Linked DNA regions of Homo sapiens. The protein of the gene in region 1 interacts with the protein of each later gene in a pairwise test. Each region holds a gene or a part of one and is shown in the gene's direction. Other genes may lie near its edges.

Region 1 (7,282 bases):
TCGAACTCCTGACCTCAGGTGATCCGCCCGCCTTGGCCTCCCAAAGTGCTAGGATTACAGGCGTGAGTCACTGTGCCCGGCCTATGCTATACTTTTACATGAGTGGCAGCATAGTAGCTATTTTTATATCAGCATCAACACAAAACATGTGAGTAATGTCTTATGCAAGACATTTTGACAGCTATGATGTTATGACAGCTATGACATTATGACAGCCATGACATCCCTAGGCGATAGGAAAATTTTGGCTTCGTTATAATCTTTTGAGACCACCTGTGTTTATTCAGTCCACCATTGATTGAAACATCATTATTCAGTGCATGACTATGGTGTATTAACTTCTTATTCTCTTTCATTTCTTATCCTGGTTTTGACTTTTATTTTGGAAATTCTCATAATTACCATCATTTCTTATATCCTTCTAACTCTTAATGTTTTGCTCTTGCAGTTAAAACTCCCTACTTTCCCTCATCACTTTTCGCTTTTAAGCTTTAATTTGTTACTTTTCCCAACTGAAAATTTTCTATCATCTTCTTTGCTAATCTATGTCTTTGTTTTCTTTGAGACTCTTTTATTCACCCTTTCTGATGATGGTAATTTTATTCATTTTCACAAAATTCATTGCAGGCTCAATGTGTGCTAGGAACTGGGCTAGGTGCCAGGAACTTGATGACTACTTTTAAAGTGTCTTTGGCATAACAGAGTGTCAGGAGAGAAATACACACACACACACACACACACACACACACACACACACACACACATGTATATGTCTCATATATATGAAAGATATGTATATATGTGTATATATGTATATATACATACATATGAATATATATACACATAGATATGAATATATATACACATAGATATGAATATATATACACATAGATATGAATATATGTGTATGTGTGTGTGTGTGTGTATATATATATATATATATATATGAGAGAGAGAAGTAAGAGAGAGAGACAGGTTCTCAGTCTGTCACTCAGGCTGGAGTCCAGTGGTATGATCATAGCTTACTGCAGCCTCAAACTTCTGGACTCAAGCAATCCTCTCATCTCAGTCTCTTGAGTAGGTGTACTACAGGCACACACCATCATGCCCAGATAATTTTTGTATTGTTTGTTCACACAGGATTATGCTATGTTGACCAGGGTGGTCTTGAACTCTTGGGCTTAAGCGATCCTTCTGCCTCAGCCTCCCAAAGTGCTGGGATTACAGTCGTGAGCTCCTGTGCCCAGTCTGAGAAATAATTAAGAAGTACAGTAGTCTTCCTGAATCCACACTTTTCCTTTCCACAATTTGTTATCAATGATCATCGTGGTCCAAAAATATTGAATGGAAAATTTTAGAAACAATCAATAAGTGTAAAATTGTGCATCATTCTGAGTGACTTGATGAGATCTCATTCTGTCCTGCCCAGGATGTGAATCATCCGTATGTCCAGTTTATTCACACTGTAGGTGCCTGTTAGCCACTTAGGATCCATCTCAGTTATCAGAAGGACTTTCATGGTAATTTGGTGCATGTTTTCAACTCTTATGTTACTTAATAATGGTCCCAAAATGCAAAAGTTATGAGGCTGGCAATTCAGATATGCCAGAGAAAAGCTGTAAAGTGATTTCTTTAATTGAAAAGATGAAAGTTTTGAGTTAATTAGGAAAGAAAATTTTATTGAGGTTTCCAAGATCTACTGTAAGAACATACCTTCTATTTGTAAAATTGTGAAGAAGGAAAGAGAAATCTGTGCTAGTTTAAGCTGTCACACCTCAGACTGCAAAAGTTACAGCCACGGTGTGTGATAATTGCTTAGTTAAGATGGAAAAGGCATTAAATTTGTGGGTGGAAGATATGAACACAAATGTGTTCCGATTGATGTCATTTGGGTTTGGTACTATATGTGGTTCAAGCATTCACTAAGGGTCTTGGAATGTATTCTCCTGAGGTTAAGGGGGCCTACTGTACCTATAATATAATGTGACAAGAGCCATGGTGAAATGAAAAGTTTAGAATTGTTAAGGGGTGTCTGGGAGCACAAGGAAGGGACCTGAACTCAGACTGAATTCAACAAGAATTTCTGCATATGAATTCAGCAAAAGGGAGGTGAAGAAGTTTTTTAGGCATGTGCAAAACTCACCAGGTATGTTAAAAAACGTCCTGGAAGAAATTTTCCAGGCATGCACAAAGACCCAGAAGGAGAAAGAAAATATGTGTGCACATGGCACTTTATTAGTATTGCAACTGATTCTTTTCTACTCAATCAGTATTTATGTTACTTTCTGTGAACTTACGAACTTAAGACCTTTCTGGTGTTTATATTTGTATGGATTTTTTGTTATCGTTTAAGAATAGGACTTCTCTATTCCACTTTCATCGTAATTTACCACATGCTATAATTCAGCTCATAGATAATGGGTGCTTTATAACTGTTATTGACTAATTTCAGTGCCTGGGGCAGGTCTGTAAATATATTTCCAAGTTTGTCATAATGAGTGAGGATTGATATGTGTGTTGGTCCTTTTAAAGTGAAGTAAGAATGTGATGATTACAGTGTTTTATTGGCAAACATTCAATTTCAAGTTACTGTTGGTAAAGTATGTAGCATGGTGTGTATATATATATATTACAGTATGCAATTGCTATAGGCAAAGGGTTATTCTATTCTGGAGCAAACCACAACCCAGATTTTAAATCAGAGGCTCCTGGCATTATAAAGAGAGAATGGGTTTTCAATGGTCCAGCTCCCTCATAGAAGAAACTGAGACCTAGAGAGGTAATAAATGAAAGAGACAACTCCCAATTGCAATCAGAAATTTTTAATGTCATGTTTGCCTTTATTTCTAATACTTTTGAGAAAAACTGTTGTTTGACATTTCTGTACTTTACACAACTTATATAGTCAATTTTTACATTAGTAAGCTAGCACACATAATATATAGATTTTTTCAAATTAAAAAGCAATGGATTATAAAGAAAGGAGCTTGAGCTTCATATACATATATATGTGTGTAACTACAGCCTATATATATATATTAGCTGCAGACTAATAAAAATGTTTTTATATATTATATATTTGAATATAATAATATGTAATTATTACAATATTAAATATATAATATATAATTTGTAAAATATTAATATATATGAATATGAATATATATTTATATTCATTTATTTACTAGTCTAACTACAGCCAAAGTTAAGGATTTCTAGAGGGAAGAAAGTGGAGATTGTTTTTTATTCTAGGTGCCTTATGGGGGACAAAGCTTAAATAAATTGCCTTAATTCTGTGATATCTTTGCTTTCTCACATACAAATGAATATTTAAAGATACGTCTCCAATTTGTTGCTCTTGTTTGCTGGGAATTATTTTTGTTGAGTCACAACAGTTAATCTAAGTTAATATTCACCATGCTTCTATTCAAAAGGCAATGCAAATATCATGACTCTCCTTTTACAAATGAGGACCTTGAGGCAACTCAGGATTAGGTTGAACAGTTTTTTTCAGGTCTCTCAGTTAATAAGTTGCATAACTGATGTCAGTACATGATCTGGGACATCAATGCTGCAGTTCAGCATTCATTCCACTCATCAGAAGAACAAGAGGGAGAGAAGGAAGAAGAAGGAAAAGGAAGAGGAAAATTAGAAATTGTTTTTTGTTTATTGTCCATTATTCACAGTGTTTAGCACAGCCATACATTAGTGTTTTCAATCTTCGTACTAATCATACATACTTCATACATACTAGATATTATTCTATTTTATAGTTTAGGAAACTGAGTCTCAAAGAAGTTATATTCTTTGCTTACAGTCACACAGCAAGTATTAGAGATAATCCAAAACTTGTCTTCACACTGCTGCACAAAACTGACTCTGAGCTGTTCCTTATTTCCCTATGGTTTAAAAAATAAATGTCGTGTAATACACTTTAAATTTGATTTCTGTAGGAAAAGTAGATTAGAAACACTCAAAAACAAAGAAACCAAACTCTGTGAAGCTTGGTGTACTGGTAATATCAATGCTCTTTTAGGGGAAAATATAAATATGTTTCTGGACTAAAGTGAAAGTAGAGAATTAAAAGTTTATATCAAAACTGAAACAAAGCAATGTTTTGTGAAGTACACTTTAATAGCCATACAGTGGATCAAAAGATATGATCTCACTTCATAGTAAAACAGGTCCTGCAAGCCCAGGTAACTCAGGAAGCAGAATGGTAATTATTCACAGAAGAAAGCAGGTAGTATACTGTTACAATACTACAGTAGAAAGTCAGAAGGTCACAAAGCTTGCAGGGTAAGTGACACAACTTGAAACTGCTTGGCCCTCTTTAAAAAGAAATAATAAAATGGGAGAGAATGAAGCAAGTTTACCTAACACGTCTTTGCAAGGTAAGTACCAACAGCCTATGAACTTTTCACTTTTCACAATCAGAAACTTAAGCAGTGTTGATTACAAAGTCTGTGTGTTTCTGTGTATGCACACACGCATCCCTGCATGCATGTTCAGGTGCCCTGGCCCTGTTTTTAAGGTGTTTTCTGCGAGCGAGAAAAGAGGTGGAGATTGTTGATTCAGAGGAAGCATGTTTTCTCAGTTGTTTACAAAGACTCAGGCAACACAGAATCACAAATTTGGGGGACCCGTGGAGGGTATGGAAAGCTTTATCCTTAATCCCCAGTATAATGTTGGAGAAATGGTATAACCAACTTCCAGTGCATTTTCATGTTGGACCTTTTCCAACATTAACAGAACCTTGATTTTTGTCTCTACCTGTGGAGTGTTTATTGGTAATTAAGTTTTGCCATCTCTGGAGTTTACCAGCTCAGTTTCCCTGTAATTAATATAACCACTTTTTAAAAGGTAGAAAACAGGGGAACATGGGCGAGCCTATCAGTTAGGAGGCTGTGATTTATTTCACAGGTGTTGCTTAATCAGATACCTTTGTCCTTTGAAAGGACTGGCTTTGTTGACATTGGCTTGACTAGGCATCTCTGGTTAGAGGCTTGTTCACCGAAACAAATTTAAGGTCGCTCACATTTCACATTTTTGGGTAACAAAAGTTATTTCTTAAAGAAGAAAAAGAAAGTAGATATTGGGCCTAATCAATATTTGTTATAGACTTCTAGAATACCATGAGATCACATAGATCTGCATGATCCTAAAAATATATCACCTATTTTATAGTTAAATTATATTTTTCTTTCATTTCTTTAATCTTTTCTCTACATAGCCTGCTTAAGAATCCCCGTATCTTTTTTTATCTCTGTATATTTCCTAAAAATCTTTCTTGAAATACTGTGTAAAATGCTACTATAAAGCATTTTTAATTTAAAAGATTAATTTCAAAAGTCATGTAATAAATTCTATTGAAGAAAAACAGTAAGGTAAAAGGCTCATTTAGCATAATGAGAATCATTTATTTCTATGTGTCTTATGGACAAATGGTATTATGTACAAGATTATAACATATTCCTTATTTGTCTCTAATATTTTTCATTGGAAAGTATATGGGAAGCCTCTAGTTTGTTCCAATTGTGCATATGATAATGATTTTACATTAAATGTTTATTACTGTTTGGCAACCACCTAAATAGCCTATTCTAGGCTGTGTGGGTGCATCACCTGTCTGTATTCAGCGATCAAAATAAACTAAGGAGTAACCAGGCCTCTTTCCATTTCACTCATTATCCCTCTTTGTGTTAGGATCATGGGTAATATTTTTTTAATTGAATCCCAGATTGTGTATACATTTTGTTGTTGTTTCTTTCTTTTTCTCTGGTGCTTTTTATGTATATTATGTTTCTGGTAATACATATGTTTCACTGTGTAAGGATAGCCTTCCCTTTCCCCTATCCATATATATGTATAAAACTACAATTATTTTCAGAATTATTAATCAGAAAACCATGCACAAAATTCAACACAAGTGATATAGTAAATAATTTGAATGGTGTGCTTTAAGTTCAAGAACAGTGTGCCTAATCTTTAAGCCTTTTGTAGTTGGGTAAAACTTGTGAAATCAGTTATATACTAGGGAGTTTTTGTTTGTATACTCTGAAAACTTTTCAATAAAATATTTATTCTCTTCTGATCTTATTCATGTTTAAATGTATCCTTGGTAGGTCTGTAAATATTTCAGATCTATCTTCTTGGAGTATTGAAGTGCTTCCCTACCAGTTATATTTGCATCAAGATTCTTAAGAGCACCTATTAATCAAGTGAGGGTTAAAAAGAACCGATGGTAGTTCAGTTGTTGGTTTCGTTTCTGGATTTCTTTACATTATAAAGGCAATGGAATGCCTTAACATTTTTCTGTTGTCTGTGATACCCTGTCCAAAATCTGAAATTGAGTTTCAAAATGACCAAAGTGAATGAAAAGTTATTTTCTAGTGTTCAATTTCACCTTTGACTTAATGACATTTATAAAAAATTCTGAGGTTCTTTCAAATAATACTCATTGTCAGCTCCACTTACAAACGGATGTTCTTTAGTGGAAATAACTATGTTAAAATAATATGTTTTGTATATTAAACATGTGGATGACTTACGTGTTTTGACTATGAGGATAATATATTATGTAGATTATCATTGGAACTCCATCAAGTGCTTTGAATAATGATTTTCTAAGGCCATGTATCTAGATTTTCTAGATTCACTGAATGATCTCTAGTTACAATTTGAAAGGCTAGCCATAGATATTATCAATGATTATTCATCACAGTGCTTTTTCTGTACATCTCTGACCCAATTATACTCTCAGGGGGTTAGTTGCATGTGCCCTGGTTAGTGGAGCCCATATGCCATTAACATTTAGTGTTTCTGGTAGTATTGAGAACCCATTTTTTTTTTTTCCTGAATAAAAGTGAAGTTATTCCAAGGTTATCTTGAGCTGTGTGAACAGATTTTAATTAGCTTTTCAAACATAAAAAGGAATCTCCTCTTTTAGTCCCAATGACAAGGTAACCCCAGCGGAGAATTGTGTAAAGCTATCATACATGAAGGTTCATAATGTCCTCAGGATTCATAAAATAAATTATCTAGGTAAGGAGAGAATGCTAGAATTTTTTTCTAAACGTTGCAAATATGAATAAAATTGTACAAATAATATGGCATAAGGAATAGGGGTAAGTGCTTTCTAAGCATTGTTATTTGTGAAGGGAAGGATCATTTTTCTTGCATAATGCCTGCAAACTCACCTGCACCACTGAGTGGCACTCTATCACTCCATCAGTCTGTAACAGGAGTAGAGGGAGGGACATGGCTGGGAGATGGGAGGGTG
Region 2 (7,028 bases), about 120 Mb from region 1:
CCCACTGCAATCTCTGCCTCCCGGGTTTAAGTGATTCTCCTGCCTCAGCCTCCCAAGTAGCTGGGATTACAGGCGCCTGCCACCATGCCCGGCTAATTTTTGTATTTTTAGTAGAGACGAGCCTGACCTCACCACGTTGGTCAGGCTGGTCTCAAACTCCCGACTTCAGGTGATCCACCCGCCTCGGCCTCCCAAAGTGCTGGGATTATAGGCATGAGCCACTGTGCCCGGCCCACAACACTTTCTACTTTGAGGTTTGCCATGGAAATTTAATGAGTTGATAGATGCATAGTATGTATCAGGGGCCCGGCAAGTCATAAGGGCACCGTTGATATTAGCTGCTATTATTTTTAACCCATTTTATAGATGAGGAAACGAAGGCTCAGAGAGAGGTGGGCCACATTCAAGGCAGTGGTGGAGGGGAACTGTGAAATCGGCTCTCGGCCAAGGGGCTCCTGACTTGTCAGATCATCTCTGCCTGGATTGGAGAGGGGTGGCCAGATAGAAGCCAGGAGTGGCCAGAGGAGAGAATCAGGGTAGGGGAGTCAGAAGGAAGATAAACAGAATATGTGTCGGGGGAGGGCACCAGAGAGTCTTCAGGGGGCACAGGATTTGAGGGGGTGGGAAGGGTGGGGAGGCAGCTCCCCTGCCCTCAGCCTCCTACTCTCCCACAGGGACCAGCAGAGGGTGCTCTGTGGCTCAGCTTCAGCAGAGGCTGCTGGCCCTGCTGACACCCCTCTGCTGCTCCCAGGGCTGTGCCCAGCTGCGATCCTCCCATCTCTGACTGGGTCCTACCTCTCACCCAGATTCCCGCTTGCCAAGTGCCCAGCACAGGCTGCTGGAAGATGCGGCTGGAGCTAGAATCAGGGCTGGGGGACATAAGGTAGGCCTTGGCTTGGCCTCAGCTTCCTTTCGGAGAGTGGCTGAGGGCATTGCCGAGATGGAGAGGGCCAGGCCCCCTGTCCTAGAACAGTTGTTCAGGAGAAATGGAGCAGAAGCAGAAATCAGAGAACCCTGGAGTCAGCTACCGGCCTGAAGTCGGGGAGGCCTGGCCACTCCATCCACTGCTGGGAGTGGATTATCTGTCCTGCTAATCCCAGACACTGGAGGTGGCTAGGCAGCTGTCATGCTAGTCTCAGTCACTGGAGGTGGCTAGGCAGCTGTCCTGCTAGTCCCAGTCACTGGAGGTGGCTAGGCAGCAGCCTGGGAAGATGTGGCTGTGCTAGCATCTATTTCTGCAGCCCCGGGTTGGGGCAGGGATGAGTGGGCGGCCTCCTACCTGCTGCTGTCTTCCAGGGCCTCTGCTGAAGTTTTCTCCACAGTCCTCCTTAGGGCTCATGCATTTATCTCCAGAAGTCCAGTTACCTCCTTGCCATCCCAAGCTGCCTGCCTCCTGGATCAGGGCCCACGCCTCAGCAGTGGTCTGCTTCTCCCTCGTCCTGATCAACACGAGGCTAGCCTGTCATCCGTAGGCTGCACCTGCCTGTTAATATTCCCCCTCATGGCTGCTCCTTCTCTCTTGCCCATGTCCCTATCATCTTCCCTTTGCCAGGCACTGTGGCCTCCCATGCATTATCGTTTTTATCCTCTCAGCAGCCTTGTAGGGCAGGAATGTGAAACTGAGGCTCAGGGAGATTTGCCAACTCCAGGGGCCCAAAGGTAAAATGTGTGGGAGGGGAGGAGACATTGAGCCCTAGACTGTCAGAGCCATAGCCTGTATCCAGTTGCAACACAAGACTCACCCCTCTGCTGTAGAATCTGGGCCATGCTCTGCTTTCACCTACCCACCCTCTACCTGGCCCTTGGCCGGATCCCACTCCTGTGGGACCTGAGGGTGGGAGATGGGGTGCCAGGCAGCCAGTGGTAGAACGTTTAAGACTCAGGCATTCAATGGAGACCAAGCCTTGGCCTATTAGGGCCACCGGACCCTGGGATCTGTGTCTTTCTTCCTAGGGGAAACTTTTCCTTCTTTCTGTATCATTCCATCAGATTGATTCAGGGGAAGGGCCACCTACCCTCAAATAAGTAGAGAGCCGAAGAGCCCTGAGTAGCCAGATGCCATCTCATGCCTCCCTCTGCCCCAGTGTAGCCAGGTGCCAACCTCCCTCCACCCAGGCCTTCCTTGGCCCCCCTGCCATGTGTCTAAAAGGGGATGGCAGAGGGGATCAGGTGTGGCTCATGACCCTGGTGTCTCCACCCTGGGTCTTCTCTCTCTCAGCCCTTGGAAAGAGATAAAAAAACTCCCTAGCCCAGAGGGAAGACTGTCAAGTCAGGATGCAGGGCTTTAGAGAGGGAGCCTTTAGGCCTGACCTTGTGGACACTTGACACCAAGACCTGCTAGCTGTGGGGGATGCACCTGTCTCTAGTGTTTGATCTGACCGCTGATCTTTGCCTTCTCTACTCCTCCCCCAGGTGGCCAACCTCTTGAGGCTATTTCAGATCCCACAGATTAGCTACGCCTCTACCAGTGCCAAGCTGAGTGACAAGTCCCGCTATGACTACTTTGCCCGCACAGTGCCTCCTGACTTCTTCCAAGCCAAGGCCATGGCTGAGATTCTCCGCTTCTTCAACTGGACCTATGTGTCCACTGTGGCGTCTGAGGGCGACTATGGCGAGACAGGCATTGAGGCCTTTGAGCTAGAGGCTCGTGCCCGCAACATCTGTGTGGCCACCTCGGAGAAAGTGGGCCGTGCCATGAGCCGCGCGGCCTTTGAGGGTGTGGTGCGAGCCCTGCTGCAGAAGCCCAGTGCCCGCGTGGCTGTCCTGTTCACCCGTTCTGAGGATGCCCGGGAGCTGCTTGCTGCCAGCCAGCGCCTCAATGCCAGCTTCACCTGGGTGGCCAGTGATGGTTGGGGGGCCCTGGAGAGTGTGGTGGCAGGCAGTGAGGGGGCTGCTGAGGGTGCTATCACCATCGAGCTGGCCTCCTACCCCATCAGTGACTTTGCCTCCTACTTCCAGAGCCTGGACCCTTGGAACAACAGCCGGAACCCCTGGTTCCGTGAATTCTGGGAGCAGAGGTTCCGCTGCAGCTTCCGGCAGCGAGACTGCGCAGCCCACTCTCTCCGGGCTGTGCCCTTTGAGCAGGAGTCCAAGATCATGTTTGTGGTCAATGCAGTGTACGCCATGGCCCATGCGCTCCACAACATGCACCGTGCCCTCTGCCCCAACACCACCCGGCTCTGTGACGCGATGCGGCCAGTTAACGGGCGCCGCCTCTACAAGGACTTTGTGCTCAACGTCAAGTTTGATGGTAATGGTGTTGGCCAGTGTCCATTGGCCTGCTGGCTGTCAGAGGATGAGGGGAAGCAGAACTTCAGCTTCCATTCCTTTGCTAAGGAAACAGTAGAGTGAAAGTAAAGGACTCACCTGGGGTGGCGTCAGAGCAAGGGCAAGGATGCTAGGCAGAGAGGACTCCAACTGAAGCTACGGCTGAGGTTCCACTTTCTTCCAGAGAGTAGACCTCTGGCCTGGTCCCGCCATTTTGAGGGTCTCTGGCTCCTCCTTGGGCCTTGCCCACTGTCTTCTGTCTCCTTATCTTGCCAAAGGTGGAGACCAGGAGACCTCAAGCCCATTCTCAGGCAGCACCAAGAGTTAGAATCAGTCTGGCTTGAGGGTGAGCATCAGGATGACGCTCTATATTCACGGAAAATGTCTTTCTGTCTTTCTTTTTTCTTTTCTTTCTTTTTTCTTTCTTTCTTTCTTTCTTTCTTTTCTTAGATGGGGTCTCACTATATTTTGTAGGCTGGAGTGCAGTGGTTATTCACAGGCACAATACAGCCTCCAACTCCTGGGCTCAAGCGATCCTTCTGCCTCAGTCTCCAGAGTAGCTAGGATGACAGGCATGTGGCACTGCTCCTAGCTTCAGGGAAAATTTCTATTCCTAATCTTGATTTTCCACTCAAGGTGACCTGAAAGTCTCCTGAAATCAAAAGTTATTTTAATAAGAGTGCCAGCTTTAAGAGAAATGACTGCTGCAGATCATCACTATGCTTCAGGAAGAATCACCGTGGGAACAGTGGGAGACAAAGCTTGGAAGCCCTGGCCCAGGGTTAAGATGAAGAGTACTTCCAATAGAACTGACATTCAGAGTTAGCTACAATCAGTGTAGGGGTTAGGGTTGGAATCTGGGGTCCGATTTGGTTGATGTTAGAGCAAGGCTAAATTCAGCATGTTTGGCTTGGGTGGAATTTATGGTAGGGCTAGAGTTGGATTTTGAGAACTTTTAGGCTGAGTAGAAAGAGTAGGTGCTTGAGGGGACCTGGGTTTGAATCTAGGCTGCACTATTCACTCATGGGGCCTTAAGCATGTCTTCTGCTTTCTTGAACCCTGATTTCTCACTGGGGCCAGGGATGGCTGTAAATCCTGGCTAGAGCCTGGCTGGGAGATGTGAGGTTTACAGGGGATGAAGTGGGGGTGGAGAGAGGAAGTGATTTTCCAGCCACTGACCACATTCTGGTGAATGGCAGTGGTTGCAGGTGACCAGTGAGGTTGGGATTCAGTTTGCACCAGGATGACTGTTAGGACTAGGGGTGCTGGAGCTGGGGTTGTTGTTAGGATTAGTGGGGACAGGATTGGAGCTGAGACTGGGTTTAGCCTTAGCATTGAGTTTGGGGAGAGGGCTGTAGTGTATGTTTCGATGAAGTTGGGATTTGGAGCCTGGGTTGGAAAGTGTTGGATAGTACTAAAGTTGAATTTGGGGAGTCATGGTTGGGGATTGATGTGGGCATTAGGTTTTTGGAGATGTCTGGGCTTTAAGGCTGGGATTACATTTGGCATTTAGGGTTGGGGTTTGATGTTGGAGTTTAGGAGTAAGACTTTGTTGTCATCTCTCATTTAGAAAAATGATTGGGGTCAAGGCAGGATTTAGTATTGGGTTAAGGATTGGAAGGGCTAATGGTGGTCTTAGCTCTGGCATTTGGGTTCCATGTTAGGGTGAATGTTGAGGTCACATCAGGGTAACACACTAGTCCAACCTTCTCTTCCTTCCCTCCCCCATCCTAGCCCCCTTTCGCCCAGCTGACACCCACAATGAGGTCCGCTTTGACCGCTTTGGTGATGGTATTGGCCGCTACAACATCTTCACCTATCTGCGTGCAGGCAGTGGGCGCTATCGCTACCAGAAGGTGGGCTACTGGGCAGAAGGCTTGACTCTGGACACCAGCCTCATCCCATGGGCCTCACCCTCAGCCGGCCCCCTGCCCGCCTCTCGCTGCAGTGAGCCCTGCCTCCAGAATGAGGTGAAGAGTGTGCAGCCGGGCGAAGTCTGCTGCTGGCTCTGCATTCCGTGCCAGCCCTATGAGTACCGATTGGACGAATTCACTTGCGCTGATTGTGGCCTGGGCTACTGGCCCAATGCCAGCCTGACTGGCTGCTTCGAACTGCCCCAGGAGTACATCCGCTGGGGCGATGCCTGGGCTGTGGGACCTGTCACCATCGCCTGCCTCGGTGCCCTGGCCACCCTCTTTGTGCTGGGTGTCTTTGTGCGGCACAATGCCACACCAGTGGTCAAGGCCTCAGGTCGGGAGCTCTGCTACATCCTGCTGGGTGGTGTCTTCCTCTGCTACTGCATGACCTTCATCTTCATTGCCAAGCCATCCACGGCAGTGTGTACCTTACGGCGTCTTGGTTTGGGCACTGCCTTCTCTGTCTGCTACTCAGCCCTGCTCACCAAGACCAACCGCATTGCACGCATCTTCGGTGGGGCCCGGGAGGGTGCCCAGCGGCCACGCTTCATCAGTCCTGCCTCACAGGTGGCCATCTGCCTGGCACTTATCTCGGGCCAGCTGCTCATCGTGGTCGCCTGGCTGGTGGTGGAGGCACCGGGCACAGGCAAGGAGACAGCCCCCGAACGGCGGGAGGTGGTGACACTGCGCTGCAACCACCGCGATGCAAGTATGTTGGGCTCGCTGGCCTACAATGTGCTCCTCATCGCGCTCTGCACGCTTTATGCCTTCAAGACTCGCAAGTGCCCCGAAAACTTCAACGAGGCCAAGTTCATTGGCTTCACCATGTACACCACCTGCATCATCTGGCTGGCATTCCTGCCCATCTTCTATGTCACCTCCAGTGACTACCGGGTGAGCTACCTGCCACAGAGGTCGGGGGAGATGGGACACCAGACCCTCTGTTTCCTGGTATCTTATTTAATCTACTGGTAGCTCTGGGGTTCCAAGAGGATAATGCCCACTCAGGGGACCACAGCTTGTGTGGATCCCAAGGGGAAGGTGGGAGGGCTGAATAGGACCTAGGGAAATGGCCAGGGAGGTGGGGAACTCGAGTTAGAGAGAGCTGAGATTTCAGGACTTGAATGTCATCCCCTATCCTGGAAGGTGATGGGGGTGCAGAAATATGTTCAAATGGACAGGGTTCTGCCCTGCTCCACTGAGGGGTCATCTGCAGAAGGGGTTGAGAGATGAAGCCAGGGAAGGCAGGAAAGATGAAGCAAGGTGGGTAGGGGAGGAGATCCAGGGTATAGAGTTGAGAAAAGCTAAAGCAGGTGAAAATTGTTCCCCAGTTGGTGGCTTCTGAGCAAATTTGGTTCCAACTGGCACTGTGTCTCAATGGGTCTCCCCAGCTCCAAGGGGCAATGGCTGCTTCAGATAGGGTGGTCAGGGAAGCCCTCTCTGAGGAGGTGACAGATGAGCTATGTTCTGAGTAAGAAGATTATCTTGGTTAATCTTCATAACTTGAGTAAGCTCCATGGCTCTCCCGTTTTACAGATGAAGAAACAGAGACTCAGGGAGGTTCAATCCCTTGCCCAAGGTCACTCAGCTTGGGAGTGCAGAGCAGGGTCTGAACTGCAGAAAAATTGAGGCGAAAGCCCCGGCAAAGGCCCCTTCCCCAGGACAGAGGTGTGGTGGCACAGTGCTGGGGGCCAGGGACCGCTGGGCTTGGCTGCTCTGCTTGCACCTGCTGGGCCACCTGCTTGGGTGGTAGAGGCCAGGGCTGGGGAGGGATTCTGCTCTGACTCAGCCTGCATTTGCATATGATTTGCATTTGCATGCCAATCACAGGCAGCTAAGGACTCA
Region 3 (6,355 bases), on another chromosome or scaffold:
AATTTGACTATATGAAAATGTCAAACTAAAATAAATAATAGCTAAGAAAAGAATTTGGAAAAATATTTGAATCAAGTGGAATAAATCATGACTCATCCTAAATATATAGTTTGTACAAATTAATAAGAAATACATAGATTATAATAAATATGTGAAGGACATGATTAGAATGGTTCACTTAGGAAATAAATAGATTTTCCATCTTATTTATAAACAAGTGCAAATTGAAATGAGGTACCATTTTACCTCACTGCCTATTACAATGGAAAATATATGTTACCGATGAACATCTCTAAGAAGACTGTGTTGAACCTTATACTCTCATACAATGCCAGTGACATTCTAAACTGCTAATCACTGTAAACATTTGTATCAAGCAATAAAAATTTTCATTGCCTTTGTTACAAAATTTGTATTTATAACGTGTTTTACAACATATTTATATAAATGTTATATTTATACATATTTATATAAATATGTTATATTTGTACATATTTATATGTATATAAATACATATTTATATGTACTTATACAAGAGCATTTATGTTATAAAAACAATATAAAAAAGTCATAAGTGCAATTATTCATTACAAATTTCTATAACAGTTAAAAATACTAGAAACATCCTAAATATCCATATTTAAGGGTTTAGAAAATTAAGCAACATAGACTCATGTGGATTTATATGATATTAATTGAGAATACTGTGTACACTCTAATTACAGATACGACTTTGAAACACCTGTGTAAAAAATGTGAAGAATATCTGAAATGGAATATTTAAAAATAGAAAATCTAAAAATAATGAGATTACAAATAAATACTTTTGAAAATGTCCTTCACTGGCTAAGTTTGGTTGTGTAGGGGTAGCAGGTCCAAGATGACGACTACTTCTTTATTCTGTAATGTATTAGATGGCTTTTATGATTAAACATAAAAAGGCAAATACAATTTACTTAAAATGTTAAGATTCTTTGTACAGAAAAATTAAAATTAGAAAAAATAAGTTATAAGAACTTAAATATAACCTGTAAAGGGGCAGAAATAAACCTACTCTCGAAAACAATTTAGCCCGAAGCATTGGATATTTATTTAAAGTATCTCCTCTGTTTTCAGGCTTGTGCTAATCACCCTGATGAGTAGAAAGAAGCTCCCCCTCGCCCTGAGAAGTTCATAATCCCATGGGCAAGGCAAGACGGAGCCACGTAACAGTTGCCCTGGCTCCAGCAGTGCAGAGAGAGGAAGTCCTCTTAGGGATGGAGGTTAGAGAAGGCTCCCAGGGGTGGGATGGAGGAAGAGGGAAGACTTCTTCTGCTTTGTCCACACCTGTTAGAGAGCATGGCCAGGATTCCCAGCCTGTAAGGGTGAGTGTTTCTATTAGTTGACTTGTGTGTAATCCTGTGGGGAGTCCTCCTGAAGGGTGAAAGAGCAGTCTTGTGAAGTTGGCCTTGGTCACTGAAACCGGGCTGGGCACCCCAGGAGACCGGGCCTAAGGCAGTGTCCCTGGCTCTGACCTTTGCTGTTTCTTCTCATCCAGACAAGTTCAGTAAGGCCCATGGACAGCACCCAGGCCTCAGCAGAGAAAATTCAGCATATGCTCTGGGCCACAGACTTCCCTTGGGTATGAGATGATGGCCCAGGAAGCAAGTAGCTCTGTGATTTTTAAAATAACCTACTTCTACTTCCCCTCAACCCCCTTCCTATATTCCCCTCTTGGTCTGCTTGCCCCATTCTTTGTTTTCACCCGGCGGCTTCTCTGCTGTTCATCTCTAGCTTTCAGGATCACTCACACTCTCTGAGCCCGCAGACTGAGGTGTGCCTGAAGGGGTGAAGTCCAGCAACACTGGGTCTGTCTCTGATGGTCTCTGGGCTCTGGCAGGCAAGCACTGCCCCTGCTAGCCTTCTAGGGGAGGAGGCTGCAGCCCCCTACTCCACCCCGGATGTGGGCACCGCTCACCAGCAACCACATGCTCAGACATTAGAAAAGCGGCTCTGGGGTGGGTCTTCAGGGGAAAACCAAGCCCGGAGGCTGAAAAGCCAGTGAAGGGAAGGTCCAGACCATTCATTCCCTAGGCTCTTCTCTTCCCTGCCCATCTTGTAATTGGTGTGGGAGAAATTCTTGACAGGAGCAGCCTAAACACTGCATACCCAACCCTCTGTGAGCTCTAGGACCATTTTCTTTTTGAGATGGAGTCTCGCTCTTTCACCCAGGCTGGAGTGCAGTGGCTTGATCTCAGCTCACTGCAACCTTTGCTCCTGGGTTCAAGCGATTCTCCCACCTCAGCCTCCTGAGTAGCTGGGACTTGCGCGTACCGTGCCCGGCTAATTTTTGCATTTTTAGTAGAGACAGGGTTTCACCATGTTGGCCAGGCTGGTCTCGAGCTCCTGACTTGAAGTGATCTACCCACCTCGGCCTCCCAAAGTGCTGGGATTAGATGTGAGCCACTGCGCCCGGCCTCTAAGACCATTTTCCAAATCCTTCCTGGGGATCTCCGTGTGCCAGAGGGACCCTGAGCGAGGGTGACCTTATGTCCCAGTTTGCCCAAAATAGTCCTGGTTTACGGCCCAGGTTAATTCTGATAGTGCCCCTTTCACTCTCAGAAACATCCTGGTTAGATGATAAATTATTTCATGACCCCACTTCAACATCAAACTGAACACATACACACATGTGCCTCTCTGTGTTCTTGGCAGTTAAGGGGACAGCGTCCATATAGTCCCTAAGCAGAGAAACCCCAGGCTTATCTTTGACTCCTCTTTGTGAGACCTATGATGTTACAATTATCTCTTGAATATACCCTCCCATTTCTGTCCCCACTGCTCATGATCTATTTCAGACACAAATAATTACAACCTACTATGGGGTCTCCCTGGCTTGAGCCTCTCCCTTCTCCATAGTTCTGCCAGCGATCTTTTCAAAACACAGATCGATGCCTCCTGGCTCCCCATGACCTATAGATTGAAATCCAAATCCCCTCATGATCCTTTCCTGCTTCATCTCCTGCCCCCACCTTCCTACCCTGGGCTCTGGCAGACTGCTTGTCCCCTGAAAAGCCCACATTCCTACTCATTTTGGTATACTTGTTCCCTTTACTCCCTCCTCCGAGTCTGACCCTTTCTTCTCTTTTCTGCTGCTCTTATTTGACTTTCAGCTCCTTCCTGGGACTGATCTCAAGTGTCATCTCCTCGAAGGCCTTTTCTGATTCAGCCCTCCCGTCAAAAATAATCACTCCCCCTCCACTAAACCCTAAGAGGGCTTGGTTTTTAACATTTACTACAATTTGGCCCCTGCATAAGATTACATAAGATTCTGCTTATGTAACCATCTCTCCTGCCTATGCAACAAACTGCGAAGGCCAAGAATGGCATCTCTTGCAGTGCCTGAAACAGTGCCTGCTTCATGGAGGAGTTCATTGTTAACAAGTCTTAATCGAACAAAATTGATAATCCACCTCAAATTTTCCACACCGGGTTGCCCGGCACATCAGCCACTCATACCTGGGAACACTGGGGACAGACTCAGAGGGCACTGTGACATCAGTTCTACCACAATATCTTGTGGAAGGGATATCTGCTAAGAAGAATTCAGATGTAAGTGGCTGCATGCCTCCTTCAGGAGAAAGAGCAAGCTTTCCCTCACCCATCCTCTCCTCCTTAGGTCCCACTGCCTCCTCAGGGTCAGACTTCATTCCCCCTCGTCTTTATGAATCCTCCCCTTACTCTCAGTTTCTCAGTTCAGAAGGGATCTTGCTGCCTCCAAGCTCCTGACTCATAATTTAGGACAACTAATCTGGTGTTTCATTAGGTGTCATCTTTTGAACTGAGCTTACATCTGTGTCTGGCTTGACAGGTTTTTTAGGATAGGAGAAGACAGGGAAGAGGCAGATGTGAATCCCAGGTTTCACCCCTTTCCAGCAGGATGATCTGACTACACCCCTTCCTCGCTGCCTTAAAACCCTTTCGCGTGGCTTCATGAGGACCTGACTGGGTCAGAGAAGCCACTCATAGGGTGAAGACATGAGCCCCACATCTCAGGACGCTAACAACTGCTTGACTGCCCAGGGCGGGCTCCCCCACCCACCCAGATCTGCTGTGTCCCGGCAGTGGAGTCTTTCCTAGGGAACAGGTGGATTTGGGGTGGGGCGTGCCTTAGGCCCCATACTCATAAAATCCCGGGGCTCTGTCTTCTCACCTCTAAAACAGAGAAGACAGCAGCCGGTGGGTGCAGGTGGGAAGGGGTGAAGTGGAGGCTGAGAAGAGGTTAGGGCTCTCGGGCACCCACCACCTCTTGCAACGCGACCCTGAGACAGTGGGGCAAGTATCCCGATTTCACGAACAAAGAAACTGAGCAACTAATAGAGGAATGGGCCACGCTCCTACTGGGAGGCCGGGCAGGTCTCCCAGCCCTGAAGACTTTTCCTCCCAAGATTTAGATGTGAAGCCCCTTTTGCCTGTCCCTGCCCTTACCCCTCGGGTCAGCCCCAAATCGGAGGCCACCATCTCTCTCACAGAAGCCTGCCCCTCCCACCCCATCCCCTCCTCCCTCCCCTCTTTCCTGCCCACCCATTTGCCTCCGGCTTGGGTGGCAGGAAGGGAGGTGCAGGGCCGGGCGTGAAGAGCAAACCCCCTCCTGCTCAGAGCTGCTGCCGCCTGCGCCCAGGGCTGCACTCCGCGCAGGCCTCATAGCCAGGCCATGGCCCCCACAGAGCCCTGGAGCCCCAGCCCGGGGTCAGCGCCCTGGGACTACTCGGGGTTGGACGGCCTGGAGGAGCTGGAGCTGTGTCCGGCCGGGGACCTGCCCTACGGCTACGTCTACATCCCCGCGCTCTACCTGGCGGCCTTCGCCGTGGGCCTGCTGGGCAACGCCTTTGTGGTGTGGCTGCTGGCCGGGCGGCGGGGCCCGCGGCGGCTGGTGGATACCTTCGTGCTGCACCTGGCGGCAGCTGACCTGGGCTTCGTGCTCACGCTGCCGCTGTGGGCCGCGGCGGCGGCGCTAGGCGGCCGCTGGCCGTTCGGCGATGGCCTCTGCAAGCTCAGCAGCTTCGCGCTGGCGGGCACGCGCTGCGCGGGCGCGCTGCTGCTGGCGGGCATGAGCGTGGACCGCTACCTGGCCGTGGTGAAGCTGCTCGAGGCGAGGCCACTGCGCACCCCGCGCTGCGCGCTGGCCTCGTGCTGCGGCGTCTGGGCCGTGGCGCTGCTGGCCGGCCTGCCCTCCCTGGTCTACCGGGGGTTGCAGCCCCTGCCTGGGGGCCAGGACAGCCAGTGCGGCGAGGAGCCCTCCCACGCCTTCCAGGGCCTCAGCTTGCTGCTGCTGCTGCTGACCTTCGTGCTGCCCCTGGTCGTCACCCTCTTCTGCTACTGCCGCATCTCGCGCCGCCTGCGACGGCCGCCGCACGTGGGTCGGGCCCGGAGGAACTCGCTGCGCATCATCTTCGCCATCGAGAGCACGTTTGTGGGCTCCTGGCTGCCCTTCAGCGCCCTGCGGGCCGTCTTCCACCTGGCGCGTCTGGGGGCGCTGCCGCTGCCGTGCCCCCTGCTGCTGGCGCTGCGCTGGGGCCTCACCATTGCCACCTGCCTGGCCTTCGTCAACAGCTGCGCCAACCCGCTCATCTACCTCCTGCTGGACCGCTCATTCCGAGCCCGGGCGCTGGACGGGGCCTGCGGGCGCACCGGCCGCCTGGCGCGAAGGATCAGCTCAGCCTCCTCGCTCTCCAGGGACGACAGTTCCGTGTTCCGTTGCCGGGCCCAGGCCGCGAACACTGCCTCGGCCTCCTGGTAGCTGCCCCGGGCCGCTGGAGGTGGGCGGCAGCGGAGCATCGAGAGGAGGCCAGAGGTCCCGGAGGGGACTGAGCTCCCCAGACGCGCCTGTTCTGGCGGCAGCAAGCTGCTCGGGCCGGCATCGCATTTCCTCGCGCGCTGCCTGGACTCCCAAGGCCTCCTCCATCGGTTTCCCCGGAACCTCAGAACAATTGAACTCCCCTAAACCAGGCTCCTGTGACTAGCTGTTCCCTCTCAGCCTGCAGGGTACCTGAGCTAATTTTGTCCAGTCCAAGATAGGTGCTATGAGATGTAGCAGACAGCAACTCGGAGACCCGCAGATTCACCAAGTAGACAGAAGGGAAGTGGGTTTCCTTCTCTGTCCCATCGGGAAGAGAACCCACCAGAATATCTAACCCAGACCCCCAAATGCCATTCTGATTTCTGGCTGTGCTTTCTCCCGTCTCCCACAATAGCCGTTGCTTTCAGAGAAATACCTTCTCCAAGTCAGACCCCCTGCCCTTCTCACTCACAAAACCCTTGCATTGAATCTGGTGACACTTCTCCCCCTGTGAAGCGGCAGGACTCACCTGGAAGT

The links.
Region 2: the proteins of NAALADL2 (region 1) and GRM2 interact in binary tests that used the Homo sapiens proteins (3 or more experiments, as listed by UniProt).
Region 3: the proteins of NAALADL2 (region 1) and GPR25 interact in binary tests that used the Homo sapiens proteins (3 or more experiments, as listed by UniProt).

What each region holds. Positions count from the first base shown.
Region 1 is NC_000003.12:174,855,057-174,862,338, forward strand, and holds the start of NAALADL2 (inactive N-acetylated-alpha-linked acidic dipeptidase-like protein 2), read left to right. Parts: upstream 1-4,277; 5' UTR 4,278-4,351; coding exon 4,352-4,394; exon of another isoform or gene 4,395-7,282. UniProt on the Homo sapiens protein: May be catalytically inactive.
Region 2 is NC_000003.12:51,710,061-51,717,088, forward strand, and holds part of GRM2 (metabotropic glutamate receptor 2 isoform a precursor), read left to right. Parts: intron 1-638; exon of another isoform or gene 639-1,659; intron 1,660-2,412; coding exon 2,413-3,250; intron 3,251-3,903; coding exon of another isoform or gene 3,904-3,923; exon of another isoform or gene 3,924-3,964; coding exon of another isoform or gene 3,965-4,061; exon of another isoform or gene 4,062-5,001; coding exon 5,002-6,077; intron 6,078-7,028. UniProt on the Homo sapiens protein: Dimeric G protein-coupled receptor which is activated by the excitatory neurotransmitter L-glutamate. Plays critical roles in modulating synaptic transmission and neuronal excitability.
Region 3 is NC_000001.11:200,868,345-200,874,699, forward strand, and holds GPR25 (probable G-protein coupled receptor 25), read left to right. Parts: upstream 1-4,636; 5' UTR 4,637-4,693; coding exon 4,694-5,779; 3' UTR 5,780-5,834; downstream 5,835-6,355. UniProt on the Homo sapiens protein: Orphan receptor.